Linked DNA regions of Homo sapiens: all the other regions are linked to region 3. Evidence: fine-mapped expression QTL. A gene starts in region 3. Each other region holds a variant in brackets. All regions are shown on one strand. Distances are between the middles of the regions. Region 1 holds the start of CYFIP1 (cytoplasmic FMR1 interacting protein 1). Region 2 overlaps NIPA2 (NIPA magnesium transporter 2). Region 3 holds the start of NIPA2 (NIPA magnesium transporter 2).

What was found.
Region 1: its variant is fine-mapped to the expression of NIPA2 in whole blood (GTEx, PIP 0.96).
Region 2: its variant is fine-mapped to the expression of NIPA2 in whole blood (INTERVAL, PIP above 0.99). The same link has a PIP of 0.9 or more in breast, esophagus mucosa, fibroblasts, subcutaneous fat, sun-exposed skin and thyroid.

What each region holds. Positions count from the first base shown.
Region 1 is chr15:22,978,413-22,981,258 of GRCh38, forward strand. CYFIP1 (cytoplasmic FMR1 interacting protein 1) reads right to left here and starts at 1,956. Exons shown (of 31, transcript NM_014608.6): 1 at 1,875-1,956. RefSeq lists enhancers at 285-1,252, 1,253-2,221. The variant C/T (reference allele first, on the strand shown) is at 1,654.
Region 2 is chr15:22,865,509-22,868,008 of GRCh38, forward strand. NIPA2 (NIPA magnesium transporter 2) reads left to right here. Exons shown (of 8, transcript NM_030922.7): 8 at 705-2,500. The coding sequence ends at 1,339. CYFIP1 (cytoplasmic FMR1 interacting protein 1) reads right to left here. Exons shown (of 31, transcript NM_014608.6): 31 at 1,544-2,500. Among named protein-coding and RNA genes, the nearest start is that of NIPA2, 28 kb to the left of the region's middle. The variant TAAGA/T (reference allele first, on the strand shown) is at 1,337.
Region 3 is chr15:22,837,537-22,840,382 of GRCh38, forward strand. It overlaps NIPA2 (NIPA magnesium transporter 2), which reads left to right and starts at 1,130. Exons shown (of 8, transcript NM_030922.7): 1 at 1,130-1,385; 2 at 2,119-2,254. RefSeq lists an enhancer at 1,027-1,256.

The DNA.
Region 1 (2,846 bases), 140 kb after region 3:
GGGAAATCTGTGTGTACAGACTATATATATCAACATGTAAAGATTGCTAAGATCTTTAAGTAACCAAACATCATTAAGTGAAAAATGTATGACGATAATATATGCAATATGATCTCACTATGTTATTTAAAAAATTACTTATGCACAGAAAAGACTATTATACTACTTAGAAGTACCGAGGGAATTTCACTTTTAGTATACACGGTTCTATGCTGTTTAATGTTTTTAATGAACTATAGTTTTGTAATTTTTCTCATCACTTTATCATTTTAGTCTCTCTCTCAGGCTGTATCCGAGAGCCACACTTTTCAGACCCTTGTATCTTTACTCTTCAGGGACAAACCAGAGCATAGCTGAATCTCCAACGCCTTATGCTAAGCGAAACAAGCCAGACTCCAAGCCCACATGTGACATTCTGGAATGGGCAAAGCAGGAGGACTGAGGAACAGACAGGCGGCTGCAAGAGCGGGGAGGAGAGAGGCTGCCTTCCTGAGTATCCTGACTGCGGTGGAAGTCACTACAGTCCATGCACCTGCTACAGCTCACTGAACTGAACACCAAAAAGTGAATCTTACTAAAAGTTTAAAATAAATTTAAACACACACACAAACTTAGGGGGTACATTTTCTTTGAGCGCAGCACAGACACCTGTCTTAACGCAGGAAACGTCCTCCGCCACGACTCCAGGGCGCCTCGGTCGCAGTGAGGGCACCGGCACTATATCCCTACTGGCCCTACGAGTGCACACCTGCTACGGCCCGCGCCCACTCACAGCGTGACTCGTTCTTCCAGGCTCCGTGCCTGCAGATCTAGACATCACTTGGAAAACCGCTGGCCACCCGCAGGGAAAAGGCAGCATGCGTGGGGCCCCCGCGGGTCCCGGCCTGGCCGGGACTCTGCCGCCAAGCTGTCAAGCATAGCAATGTGCGCACTGCACCAGGCATCACCGCGGCTCCGACCACGCCTCATTCCGGAGTCCGACGGACGACTGCAAGAAACACCACCGCTCCCGGCGCAGCCACGGTGCCCTCCGCCGCCAGAAAACAAACGCTCCCGAGCCTCAGTCCCCAGCGGCGACCACGCGGCGCTGGGCTCAATCAGCAGCCGCTCCCTGACTGGACTTAATAGCGGAGCTGACACCGTCCAGACGCCCCTCTCAGCTTAAAACACGTTCCATCAACCCCGTTTCCCGATTATTCTTGCACCCTTCTTGTCACACCCACAATGTGCTGCAAATTAAGCTCACGCATTTCAGCCTTAAAATACACAATTCAGATGCTTGTGCGAAACAGTGCTGCCTCCGTAACGATCGCGCCTCCTTAACAAAGCCCAAAACTCCTCTCTCCAAGAATGCCCGGAATGGCTCCGCGGACCAGGCTCCCTCCGCTCCTCACAGGGGCACGAAACAAAAACGGGTTCAGATCTTGCTGCGCGACCTTAGTGCAACATTAACAATCTGCCTGCTCCTTACTTTCCAACAAAAACGTCAAACACTAAGGTATTCCTTCGCCACTGGAGCTGTGCCATGTGCCGGGGCGCGGAATCCGGGATCCGGGGGCGCGAGGCGGTGAACGCGGGGGCGGGGAGCTCGGGGCCGAGGCCGAAAGGCCGGGGGCGCAGGGACCGGGAAGCCAGTGCAGGGAGTGCGGGGAC[C/T]TGGAGCCCGGGAGGCGCGGGAGCCCGGGGCCGGGACCTGGGGGACGCGGGGACCAGGACGATCCCGGAGGCCGCGCCGCCGGGGAGGCCGCGCCGCCGGGGTTGGGGGGGAGGGGGGGGTCCGTCCCGGCCCCGCCGCCGCCCTGGCCGGCCCAGGTTCCGAGGGGGACCCGGACCCCGCGGAGGCCGCAGGGCAGGCGCGGGCGAGCGGGGTTCCTCACCTGCGTCCGCGGCGGCTTGGGGGTCCTGGGCGGGCCCTGGGAGTTTCCTTGGCCGAGTGAGTCACTCGGGCTGGCCGGGAATGCGCCAGGAAACACTCGGCCTCCTCCCCTTCCTCCCGGGGCGGGGGCTCTCCCGGCTCGGCCTCTTCCTCCCGGCGCTCCTCCCTCCCGGCCGCGGCCCCGGCCGCTCCCTCCTCCTGGCGGGGCATCCCCGGCCGGGCGGCCCCTTTCCCCACGCCAGCCGCCGAAGGTGTCCTCCCAGGCAGAGAGCCCCTGGCTACCTGCCGGCCTGGGTCACCGCAGCCTGCGCGGGACGGCGGGGTCGGAGCGGAGCGGGCGTGGGGTCCTCCTGCGGGTCCGTCCGGTTCGGAGCGCGAAGGAACGGGGTCCGCACCCTGTCCCGGGGCTCCACCGGGTCAGGGCGGGGGTTGGCCTGAGCTGCGGAAGGAGCTCAGGGGGACACCCAGGACGCCCGTGTGGCGCCGCCCCACTTGGCAGGAGGCGCTCACCTGCGCTCGTCGGGAGGGTTCCAGGCGCGGGTCCCAGCTGCAGGTCGGCGCGCAGAGCCCGCTGGGGACCCCCCCGGCCGGCCCCTGCGGCCCCATTGCCTGCGGGAACCAGGGACAAATCCGTGCGCAGACCTGCGGGAACGGCGGACGGAAGAAAACCTGATTTGAGCTCGTGCCAAAAAACAATCTTGAAAGGCCGGTGAAGAAACATACCTCACACGGAAACGCTGAGTGGAGTCAGCTGGTCACAGGCGTGTTTAGGAAAACTGCCCTAAACGCCCCGCTCAGCCGCAGCAACCTCACTCCCCATTCATCCGCGACCCCTGGTTCTTACGGAGAACAGTAAGGATGGGCATCAGATATTCTAGTCTGGTCTCTAGATTATGAAGGTTTGGTTACCCCCGCTTGTGCTCTGCGGTAAGGCAAAAAGCAGCAAATGAATCCTGACCAGCGGATTGAGACA
Region 2 (2,500 bases), 28 kb after region 3:
TGTATTTTATTAGTGGAATTTGAGGAAGGAAGAGTAAATTCATGTGACTTATCTGGGCCTCAGTTTCCTCATCCGAAAATGCAGGTGGTAGTATCCGTGATAACAGGGTAGTTGAGTGCGAATTGCTGAGAAAAATGCCTGGCCCACAGTGCTACACAGTTGTTGGCTATTATCATGCTGGATTTAATTCTCCGTATTCAACCAGAACCCCAGTAGTATCTTTCAAGTTCTCCAGTTGACTTGCTCGTTACTCCAGCAGTTGTCCACAAATTTTAAAAGTTTCCCCTTTTAGGGAAAACTTGATGAAGAACTCTTGTTTTTGTGTTTTTTGTTTTTTTTAGCATCTATAAATTGTTGAACATTCAAGGCCACCTCATGGTTTCTCCTCCCTAGTTTCTGTGTCTGTTCTGTTCCCACTGTCCCTCTTGCCTGGTGAGCTAGAGCACTTAAGTCGGCATAAAGTGCTGCTGCAAAAATGTTAGGGGTATAACAATTTGTGAATATGAAGCTCGCATTAATCTTCCAGTGTGTCCATCTAAGTAAATTTTTGTGGTTGCATTTCTGCTTGGGCTGCAAAATAAAGCTGATTTTTATTTCCAGGCCATACCTTTTCTCCCTATCAAGTTTATTATATTTTGTTTTGCATTCTGTGTTTAAGAACAACCAACCATTTGACTCATGTAACTTTTCTTTGCCTCCTCCAGGTTTTGTGGTCTTTGCAACCCTTGTGGTCATTGTGGCCTTGATATTAATCTTCGTGGTGGGTCCTCGCCATGGACAGACAAACATTCTTGTGTACATAACAATCTGCTCTGTAATCGGCGCGTTTTCAGTCTCCTGTGTGAAGGGCCTGGGCATTGCTATCAAGGAGCTGTTTGCAGGGAAGCCTGTGCTGCGGCATCCCCTGGCTTGGATTCTGCTGCTGAGCCTCATCGTCTGTGTGAGCACACAGATTAATTACCTAAATAGGGCCCTGGATATATTCAACACTTCCATTGTGACTCCAATATATTATGTATTCTTTACAACATCAGTTTTAACTTGTTCAGCTATTCTTTTTAAGGAGTGGCAAGATATGCCTGTTGACGATGTCATTGGTACTTTGAGTGGCTTCTTTACAATCATTGTGGGGATATTCTTGTTGCATGCCTTTAAAGACGTCAGCTTTAGTCTAGCAAGTCTGCCTGTGTCTTTTCGAAAAGACGAGAAAGCAATGAATGGCAATCTCTCTAATATGTATGAAGTTCTTAATAATAATGAAGAAAGCTTAACCTGTGGAATCGAACAACACACTGGTGAAAATGTCTCCCGAAGAAATGGAAATCTGACAGCTTTT[TAAGA/T]AAGGTGTAATTAAAGGTTAATCTGTGATTGTTATGAAGTGAATTTGAATATCATCAGAATGTGTCTGAAAAAACATTGTCCTCAAATAATGTTCTTTAAAGGCAATCTTTTTAAAGATTTCACTAATTTGGACCAAGAAATTACTTTTCTTGTATTTAAACAAACAATGGTAGCTCACTAAAATGACCTCAGCACATGACGATTTCTATTAACATTTTATTGTTGTAGAAGTATTTTACATTTTCATCCCTTCTCCAAAAGCCGAATGCACTAATGACAGTTTTAAGTCTATGAAAATGCTTTATTTTTTCATTGGTGATGAAAGTCTGAAATGTGCATTTGTCATCCCCACTCCATCAATCCCTGACCATGTAAGGCTTTTTTATTTTAAAAAAACAGAGTTATCCCAATACATTATCCTGTGATTTACCTTACCTACAAAAGTGGCTCCTGTTTGTTTGATGATGATTGGTTTTATTTTTGAAATATTTATTAAGGGAAAACTAAGTTACTGAATGAAGGAACCTCTTTCTTACAAAACAAAAAAAAGGGCAGAAATCACCCCAAGGAACGATTTCTCAGGTTGAGATGATCACCGTGAATCCGGCTTCCTCTGAGCATTCGATGGCCTTAGCACCTCATCAAGCCAGCACATCCTGCCTGCTGTTGCAGCCTGGCTGGGTTTATTCTTCAGTTACCCTAATCCCATGATGCCTGGAACCTTGATTACCGTTTTACATCAGCTCTTGTACTTTTCAGTATATTTTCATAATGAGTTATATTGTCATTTAGACTTTGAACAGCTCTGGGAAATAGAAGACTAGGGTTGTTTCTTAAATTTAGCTCATGTTATAATAAAAAGTTGAAATGAAGTTCTTATTCTAAAAGTCTGAATGCTTAGAACAAACTTAACATGTTTATAGAATATGGTCTCTTTGTACCAAGTACTTTGCTTAAGAGCTCCTTTGGGCCACTACATATTTTGGTTTCTAGAAAATGTTTGTTTATGAAGAAGTCGATGGAAAACTGCAAACATATGCAGAAAAGGTAGAATAATAAAAAAGGTCTAATGAACTCCATTCAGCTTTGAACCTATCCACTCATAACCATTGACTGGCCTTTAAAAAAAAGTATTGGCAGAATTAATTTCCACCTAGGT
Region 3 (2,846 bases):
ATCTATTCCGCGACCGGGTCAGTAAGGAAGGGCCCAGCGGTCGTCGAACTACCACAGCTATTTCGGCCCCGCCCCGTCCCGCCCCCAGCTTTGGACCCACCCTTTCCCCCGCTTCTTGCCCTCTTGGGAGCTCTGTTCCCCTTTGGCATCGCCCGGGGACACCAATTAAATGCAGCTTCACACTGTGACTGCCCCTGGGAACCCTCATTTTATTTTATTTATTTATTTATTTTTGAGAAGGAGTCTCGCTCTGTCGCCCAGGTGGAGTGCAGTGGCTGATCTCGGCTCACTGCAACCTCCGCCTCCCGAGTTCAAGCGATTCCCCTGCCTCAGCCTCTGGAGTAGCTGAGATTACTGGCGCGCACCAACACGTCCAGCTAATTTTTGTATTTTTAGTAGAGATGCGGTTTCCCCATGTTGGTCACGTTGGTCTCGAACTCCTGACCTCGTGATCTGCCCGCCTCGGCCTCCCAAAGTGCTGTGATTACAGGTGTGAGCCACCGCGCCCGGCCGGAACCCTCATTTATTCTATTTTTTTTTGAGACGGAGTCTCGCTCTGTCGCCCAGGCTGGAGTGCAGTGGCGGGATCTCCGATCACTGCAAGCTCCGCCTCCCGGGTTCGCGCCCTTCTCCTGCCTCAGTGTCCCGAGTAGCTGGGACTACAAGCACCCGCCACCACGCCCGGCTAATTTTTTGTATTTTTAGTAGGGGCGGGGTTTCACCGTGTTAGCCAGGATGGTCTCGATCTGCTGACCTCGGGATCCGCCCGCCTTGGTCTCCCAAAGTGCTGGGATTACAGGCGTGAGCCACAGCGCCGGGCCCGGAATCCTCGTTTTAAATAAGGGCCACGCCGGAGTTTGATTTTGAACTGATCGGCCAACGCCACCTGGCAGCATACTGTACTGCTTAACTACGCTTCCAGCTTCGTCCCTCGCCAGGTCCCGCCTGGATCCTGCGCCCCGCCCCCGTCCCCACACTCTACGCGCCCCGCCCTCCGCGCTCAGCCGACTGGGGCCTTGTAAAGGAACCGGAACCCGGCGGGAGAGAGCCCCGGGGGCGGGGTGTACGTGGTGCGGCACTGCGCGTGCGCGCGAGGCCTCTTGCGTCATTTAGCCGCGCCTAGGTTTTCCGGCGCCGGCCCTAGGTCCCGGCAGCGGTGGTGACGGCGGTGCCGGAGGTTGTCCTTGGCAGGTTTTCCTCGGCGCTTCTCCATGGAGGAGGCGGTGCGAACGGCTTCAGCCCCGAATGCTCGCATCTCCCACTGGACGGCGACGAAGGCGGTGGCCGTGCGAGCGCAGGACTGGGCGGCCTGTGTGGGGGTGTGAGCCGCGGTGCCCAAGGCTGCGCCGGCGAGGGGAAGCCGCGCGGCCGGCCGGCCGACTAGGGTGAGGTCGCCACTCCTTCCTTTCAGGCAAGCGCGAAGGGGCTGACTTGGTGGCGAGCCAGCCCGCCTTGTGTCGGAGAAGGGTTCTTCGGGCAACTTTCCTTTCCGGGTGTTCTGAAGCGGTTTTCCTGTAATCCTCAGTGAGGAAACCCACCGTGAATCGGATTGCCGTTCAGTCCCACGGAAGCCTGGCTCGTTGGCCATGTCGGGGACGCATGTTCATTAAGTTCATTAAAATAATTTCATTTGTCTTGGTGAGTTTTAGAAGGTGGCTTCAGCTGCTGCGGGGATCATAACTGACAGTTAAACAAGCCTTAGAAGTCTGCTGTGACGTTTTGAGCCTGACTGTTTTAATTTCCTTTTATAAAATCACGGAATCCTATTTCCCTCTCTATACAATTGCTCAAAACTGTGTGTTTAGTTTGGTGTTTGTGCCTCCTTAATTTCTTTTCTAGGTTGTTAGTTCATTTAATACAGGACTGCATGTTAAGTTCTGTTTCTAGAAATCCTGTGTATAGCCATGTGCCCGGTTAATACTTTTTTTAGTAAGAGGAAATATCAGAGTCGAGAGTTTCCATTCCAGTAAGCTGCCTGTCGAAGCAGTAGTTGTGCTCGATTGAGTAGGTTTTATGTTGATTGGTTGGCAAAATGAGTATGAAGGCTAGTAACCAAATTATAAAACGTACTTAGTAACTTTAAGTCTTTTGCCTACTTCTGTGTTTTCTTCTTTCTAGGCTGGAGCTACTCGGCCAGGGTTTAAGACTTTAAATGAGAATAAAGGGTGGTATTTACGAGGAAATGAGAGTGAATAAGTCATCTCTAACCTCTCCCAGCCTTTTTTTCATAAGAGAGACCATATTAAACTTACATGTAAGTTAAAATTGTAATTTATAACTAATATTGTTGCATAGTTAGGGTTGGAGATTTAGGTTCTGTAATATTTATAAGTACAGTACTGCTTTGAAAAATTATTAGCCAAGTGAGAGGTTGGAAAAAATTAAATCTAACATGTATTTAATTTTTCTGAGCCAAGGTCTTGCTCTGTCCCCAGGCTAGACGGTGCAATCTGGGCTCACTGCAACTTCCGCCTCCCGGGCTCAAGTGCTCCTCCCACCTCAGCCTCCCCAGCAGCTGGGACCACAGACGTGCGGCACCATGCCTGGCTAATTTTTGTATTTTTTTTAGAACCGGGGTTTCACCATGTTACACCGGCTGGTCTCCTAATTCTGGACTTAAGCGATCCAACCACCTTGGCCTCCAAAGTGCGGGGATTACAGGTGTGAGCCACCGAGCCGGGCCTAAGCTAACTTAGATAGCAGTGGAAACCAGGTAGTAAAGATTTCGTAGAAAACTAAGAGCTCTATATATAGTTTTTTTTTTTGTTTTTTTTTTTTTGAGATGGAATCTTGCTCTGTCACTCGGGCTGGAGTGCAGTGGCACGATCTCTGCTCACTGCAACCTC